2 linked regions of the Homo sapiens genome follow. The protein of the gene in region 1 purifies or fractionates together with the protein of each later gene. This does not show direct contact. Each region holds a gene or a part of one and is shown on either strand. Other genes may lie near its edges.

Evidence for each region. Proteins that work in one complex are often made in the same cells at the same time.
Region 2: the proteins of ETF1 (region 1) and SYAP1 fractionate together in Homo sapiens (co-fractionation; one large-scale study listed by BioGRID). This does not show direct contact.

Annotation. Positions count from the first base shown.
Region 1 is NC_000005.10:138,533,237-138,536,736, forward strand, and holds part of ETF1 (eukaryotic peptide chain release factor subunit 1), read right to left. Parts: intron 1-3,500. UniProt on the Homo sapiens protein: Component of the eRF1-eRF3-GTP ternary complex, a ternary complex that mediates translation termination in response to the termination codons. The eRF1-eRF3-GTP complex binds to a stop codon in the ribosomal A-site.
Region 2 is NC_000023.11:16,754,112-16,757,611, forward strand, and holds part of SYAP1 (synapse-associated protein 1), read left to right. Parts: intron 1-833; coding exon 834-982; intron 983-2,551; coding exon 2,552-2,610; intron 2,611-3,050; coding exon 3,051-3,198; intron 3,199-3,500.

The DNA.
Region 1 (3,500 bases):
GTGTATATAAGCATCCTGAGGGCAAAAATCATTTTAGCACATAGTGGTGCTCAAACATTTGAAAAATGAATAAATGGCCAATTCCTACCATCATCTCTATATACTCTTTTTTAAGCAAACACCAGAGATTTATTCTAAACTACCAAATAAAATACCAATAAAAAAATCTGGCCGGGCACAGTGGCTCACGCCTGTAATCCCAGCACTTTGAGAGGCCGAGGCAGGCGGATCACGAGGTCAAGAGATCGAGACCATCCTGGCCAACATGGTGAAACCCTGTCTCTACTAAAAATACAAAACTTAGCTGGATGTGGTGGCACGCACCTGTAGTACCAGTTACTTGGGAGTCTGAGGCAGAAGAATCGCTTAAACCTGGGAGGCAGTGGTTGCGGTGAGCCAAGATCGCACCACTGCACTCCAGCCTGGAGACAGAGCAAGACTCCACCTCAAAAACAAAACAAAACAAAAACCAACAACAAATTGTCAGTCCTTGGAGAGGAACTAATGTGCCTTAAATTGACTAACTGTCCCCATCTTTCACTGCACCTAAAAGTTCAAACCATCATACTATATTAGGCGTTTACCTTAAGAAAACCAGCACTAAACAAAACCAACCCTTATGAAGTGTCATTTTAATTTTGTTGATCCTCACATTAATGCCACCCCACTCCCTCTGCTACTACCATCTATGAGGCATGTTAGGAGGTGGATGGGGCTGCCTTTTATAAAAGGTTTAGTTAGACTATCAAATTAGGAGGGATGATTCTGTTACCCTTCAAAGGGACTAGGAAAGTTACCTGAAATTAGTTTATGCAATTGACCTTAGAGTCAGATGCTATTACCAAATGGGAGAAATACCAAGACCGGAACTTACTGAGACATTACAGCAACCTCCACCCTAGGGTACAGAATAACTCAGATGTCCAAACATTTTCAGAATAAAGTTCACAAAGGTTCATTTTAGCTTTCTGTCCCCCAGAGAACAAAGATTTACTCAGTCATCTAAAACAAAAATGTACACATCTGGTAGAGTGTGTACACTTTTTCTACAATGATAGGCATTATTAGTCTTAAAAAGAAAAATTAAAAGATCTTCACAAACCCAGTGGAATATTCCACCAGGAAGCAGCTTTGAAGCTGGAAAATTTCTCTAGTGTTCTTACAACAGTGCAAAGCAAGAGACTGCAATCACAACCAGTGTTCGGGATTCATTACTTCACTACTTAGATCTTTCTAATATACGAATGAGCTCCTGGGGAGGGATTTTGCAACAAGTTATTTCTCTCTCCACTGATGCTCGTCAAGAATAAACATGTTCAGTATCCAAGTTCTTCCTAGGGTGGAAATAGCATGTCTGTTTTCTTTTAAATCTTTGCACCTGAGTCTCAGCACACCTGCTCCTCCTACTAAATTACAAATCTCCATGGACAAGAGTCTTCCTTTCAGAAGGGAATGGGAGACGTCTCTATTCAGCAAAAGAAATACTTGCCAAAGGGCAAGGTAGTGTTGTACAAATTAGCACCACAGGCTTTGAAATCAGAAAAGTGAGTACAGAATCTGGCACTGACCCTTACTAAAGGCTGTGATATTAGGCAGCTATTTACTCCCTGTATGTACTTTAATTTCTTCATCCATGAAATGGCAATAATAGCTTTCCTCACAGAGCTGTTATAAGGTTATAAGGGGGGGGGTCAAATGTATGCTTACTCATCCTCAGAAAACTAGTTTCTTTTTTTTTTTTTTTTTTGAGACAGAGTCTCCCTCTATAGCCCAGGCTGGTATTGGCTCACTGCAACTTCCGCCTCTTGGGTTCAAGCGATTCTCTTGCCTCAGCCTCCCGAGTAGCTGGGATTACAGGCATGTGCCAACACACCCAACTAATTTTTTTATTTTTAGTAGAGACAGGTTTTCACCATGTTGGCCAGGCTGGTCTTGAACTCCTTACCTCAGTGATCTACCTGCCTAGACCTCCCAAAGTACTGGGATTACAGGCATGAGCAACCATACCCAGCCAATGTTACCTTTTTTAAAGAAGAAGAAGAAAGCATTAGTTCCCCCATGAAGCAGATGGGGAAACTGAAGCCCATGGATGAATAATTGGCTTTTTTTTTTGAGACAGAGACTGGCTATGTTGCCCAGGCTGGAGTGCAGTGGCACGATCTCGGCTCACTGCAACCTCCTTTTAATAAAAGATGAATTTCGGCCAGGCGCGGTGGCTCACGCCTGTAATCCCAGCACTTTGGGAGGCCGAGGCGGGCGGATCACCTGAGGTCAGGAGTTCGAGACCAGCTTTGCCAACATGGCAAAACTCTGTCTCTACTAAAAAATGCAAAAATTAGCCGGCTGTGGTGGCGGGTGCCTGTAATCTCAGATACTTGGGAGGCTGAGGCAGGAGAATCGCTTGAACCTGGGAGGTGGAGGTTGCAGTGAGCTGAGATCACGCCACTGCACTCCAGCCTGGGCAAGAGAGCAAGACCGTCTCAAAAAAAAAAAAAGAAAAAATTAGCCAGGCTTGGTGGGACACACCTGTAATCCCAGCTACTCGGGAGGCTGAGCTGAACCTGGGAGGTGGAGGTTGCAGTAAGCTGAGATCGCACCACTGCACTCAAGCCTGGGCGGGAAAGCGAGACTCCGCCTCAAAAAAAAAAAAAAAAAAAAAAAAAAGACCTTAATCATCTGCTTATACTAAATCCCCTTCAACATGTACTGTGTTATTCTGTACTCACTAATATGGAGTTGAAAATGGTTTATATTATCATTCCATGGTTGTGTGGCAGATCATGTTTTCATTTTATTACATATTTCTTCCAAAATGTCTAGTGCCCAACTCACAGCAGATGTTTGGTGAAGCCCATTAGCTTACTGGTTAATAGTAAAAGTGCATTTCTGGCTTCATATTCATATACCCAGATGTGTATTTTGGAGGAAAATCTAGTTTATAAGGTCACAGACACAGCAGGAAAACAAAAAGAACCTTTTATTTTGACTATGATCATTCTTCTAAAGGAGATCTTAGAAGAACAAATGAAAATGTGAAAACAAGAGTACAAACTCAACATGCAGAGCTATCTGTATGATAAGAACCAGTTGCCAGGCACCTGAAAATGTCAAGTCCTCTGAACCTGAAAGGATTGTGAGAAGAGTAAAGAGAGTGGGCAAGGATGTGTGTCAAATGGCATAAGATAAAACCGTATCAGAGGGAGCTTCATCATACTCTCTGAGGACAGTACCCAGTGAGAAACCTCAGACTCTCAATTTCTAACCTGCCGGGGAAAAAAAGCCTGAACCTTCCTAATTCCTTCTCCCCCTCACTAAGATAGTAGGCTGCTGAAGAATTAAAAGACACCTACAGAATGTATCCTAGGAGAAGGTTCTATTCTGAGAGCCCTAGAGAATAGGCTGGACTGAGAAGTAATTTCTACTGTCCAGCCTCTTAGTTGAACAGATCCAGCAGTGGGAAGGCAAATTTCTCCTTCCTACTCTTCAAATAGGATCGAAGA
Region 2 (3,500 bases), on another chromosome or scaffold:
CTTACTGGTTACTAGTTATTAGCAAGCTGCCAAACATTCTCTTTCATAAGGAACAACAGCCACAATGCTTGCTTCTCACTGCTGGAAGGCATTTAATCCTCTTGAGAAACAGCAAGTGATTGGTGGAGTCCTGGCTCTGCTTCTGGTTTCCCAGGTTGATTATGCTAGTTTCACAACAATGCCATGTTTTCTTCTACCGAGAGCAGTATTGGTATCATTAAGATACCAAGAAATGCTGAGGTTTCATTGGTATTCTGTAACTTGTATTTTGCTGCTACGGGGAAGATAGCTGTTAGGTTTATCCTGTTGTTAGCTTTCAATTCTAAAGTGAATATGGGCTGGGTGCGGTGGCTCACGCCTGTAATCCCAGCACTTTGGGAGGCCGAGGCGGGCAGATCATGAGGTCAGGAGTTTGAGACCAGCCAGGCCAACATTGTGAAACCCCGTCTCTACTAAAAATACAAAAATTAGCTGTGCATGGTGGCGGGCACCTATAATCCCAGCAACTCGGGAGGCTGAGGCAAGAGAATTGCTGGAACCCAGGAGGCGGAGGTTGCAGTCAGCTGAGATCACACCACTGCACTCCAACCTGGGCAACAGAGCAAGACTCCGTGTCAAAAAAAAAAAATTGTTAAAGCCAATATGAACCCCCTCTGAACCTCACTCAGCTTTGAAAGTGCTCTTGCAAATCATCTACTCCAGTCCCCTTTACAACAAATAACCCCTGCGTGCACTTGTCTGTGTGCGTTCTCAAATGTGTTCTTGTCTGTCTGCTTTTTATTGATTTTCAATTTTGCCTTTTTCCACTGTTCTAATTTGCCTTTCTTTAAAAGTGTGAAGGAAGAAGTGTTCTGGAGGAACTACTTTTACCGCGTCTCCCTGATTAAGCAGTCAGCCCAGCTCACGGCCCTGGCTGCCCAACAGCAGGCCGCAGGGAAGGAGGAGAAGAGCAATGGCAGAGAGCAAGATTTGCCGCTGGCAGGTATATTCTGGGTAGAAGACAGCACTCTACAGAAAAAGTTGTTCTTAGAGACTCAAATGAGCTTGACCTCTTATACGTACCAGAAATGTCATTGCCTTAGGGAAAAATTCTTTTCTTCCCAGAGGAAATCTTCATTTTTCTCTTACTGCCTTCTCTCTGACCCAGCTCACACATGTCTTCCCCAAGCTTTCCTTTACTTTGCTTATCTCCTTTCTCATTCCTTGTTTTCGTTTTTGTTTTTTTTTTTAGACACGGGTCTCACTATGTTGCCCAGGCTGTCCTCAAACTCCTAGACTCAAGCGATCCTCCTGCCTCAGCTTCCCAAGTAGCTGGGACTTACAGGCATGAGCCACTGTGCCTGGCGAGTTTTTTTTTCGTTTTATTTCTCTCTCAAACATCCGTCATCTTCCCCCCCTCTCATTTTTGGCCCTTAACCATGTGATTCTTTATACTTCTGTCCTCTACCCTGATTCAGTCCGCCTCCTTTTTGTTTGTTTCAACCTGATGTTTCTCCAGTGTGTGTAGTCTGTAGAGCAGAACAAAGCTCCATTCCACTCCCAAGTTACAAGGATCTATCTAGTTCTGAGCTAGGCACTGATGAACATTGGACTCATTGTGACACTAACTTACCCCTGGTTGTGGGAATGTGTTTTATAATAAGGGCAGCTGTTTGAAATCTGTAATAATTAAAATAAGAAACACATTTTGTGTCATAGTTTAAATTCTTAGTGAGTACCTGCTGTGTATAGTAGGTACTCATTACAACTGGACATTTATCCCACAAGAAGCGGGGTGATTTAATTCACGGAATTTTAAATGATTAAGCAAAACAGCATGTCCTGAGGTACAGGTTATACAGAATACTAGGACAGGATCTGACACTGCTGTTAGTGTCAGGGAAATGGAGTGAAGTTGCTCTACACAGGAAAATTTGTCATTTTGTATATCAGTGTTAACATGCATCCCAATTGTCTGTTATTCTTTAGCATTTATGTTAATTTTGTTGGAAAATGCCATTTTGCCAAATACTGCCTTGTTTAACAAAATGGATTTATGACAGTATTCCATAAAGACTGCCTTTTTCTAGCACTCTTATCAGCAGGCAAACTTGATAAATAGCTTAATTCTCATTATTCTAAAAAAGTACAGAACTATTCTTCAATGAATTTTGCTAACACTGTAGTTAAAAATTATTTCCTGCTGGAAATTTTATGTAAGGATATGTATTGAATATGATGACATGTTAAAAATATCCCCAGGAGGCTGAGGCAGGAGGATCACTTGAGCCCAGAAGTTCGAGTCCAGCCTGGGCAACATAGTGACACCCCATGTCTAAAAATAAATAAATGGATAGGTAGATAGATAGATAAAAATATCCCCAAAGTAAGAGGTTGAGATGGTTTCACCATGGCTGTTTCTTATAACTTAAGAAAAGCTGAAAGCATAACATAAAAATTCATTTCTGAAAATTATTTAGTATCATAATACTTGTGGATATTTTACTGTGATTATAATATGTATTCAGAACTGAACCAAGCAATTATTGTCTCTCTTATTCTCACTTCTTAGAGGCAGTACGGCCCAAAACGCCACCCGTTGTAATCAAATCTCAGCTTAAAACTCAAGAGGTAATCCAGTTTTACATTGTACCTAGTAGTTGATATCTGGAAATAAAGTAACTGTGTTAACTCTTTCTGATACCATTTAAAACTATGTATGAATATGGGTTTGGAAGAAGCAGCATCTGGTACTTGAATAGTCAAGGAACTAGGGCTGAGACTTGAGGACGATTTACTGGCATATGTAATTCTAGATGTGTTCATCAGGGATTGGAGAGAAGGGTTGGAGTGATTCAAACTGTGAAGGAGAATAATAGCCTCAGGTGGTAACTCATGTAGTTACCAAGCAACTGCAAGTTAGAAGGTTGGAGAGCAGTGCTCATTGTCTTACAGCTCGCAGAGAAAAGAAATAAAAATAGCACGGCATTAAATTGTGAGACAATAGCAAACCAGAATAACACAAATGTCGCTTAGCAAACCATTTCAAGAGCTCATTTGTTGCATTTCAGGATGAGGAAGAAATTTCTACTAGCCCAGGTGTTTCTGAGTTTGTCAGTGATGCCTTCGATGCCTGTAACCTAAATCAGGAAGATCTAAGGAAAGAAATGGAGCAACTAGTGCTTGACAAAAAGCAAGAGGAGACAGCCGTACTGGAAGGTAAAAAACAAAACAAATCAAAGCAAAGAAACTATTCGTCTCCCTAATTCCAAAGCTAATTGTAGAAAATTGTTATTCTGAAGCCAGTGCACAAAAATGTGTTGTAAATTTTGCATCAAAATTGATTCTTGTCAGAGGCAATGGCTCACGCTTGTAATCCTAGCACTTTGGGAGGCCGAGGCGGGCAGATCACGAGGTCAGGAGATCGAGACCATCCTGGCTAACACGGTGAAACCCCGTCTCTACTAAAAATACAAAAAAAAATTAGCCGGGCCTGGTGGTGGGTGCCTGTAGTCCCAGCT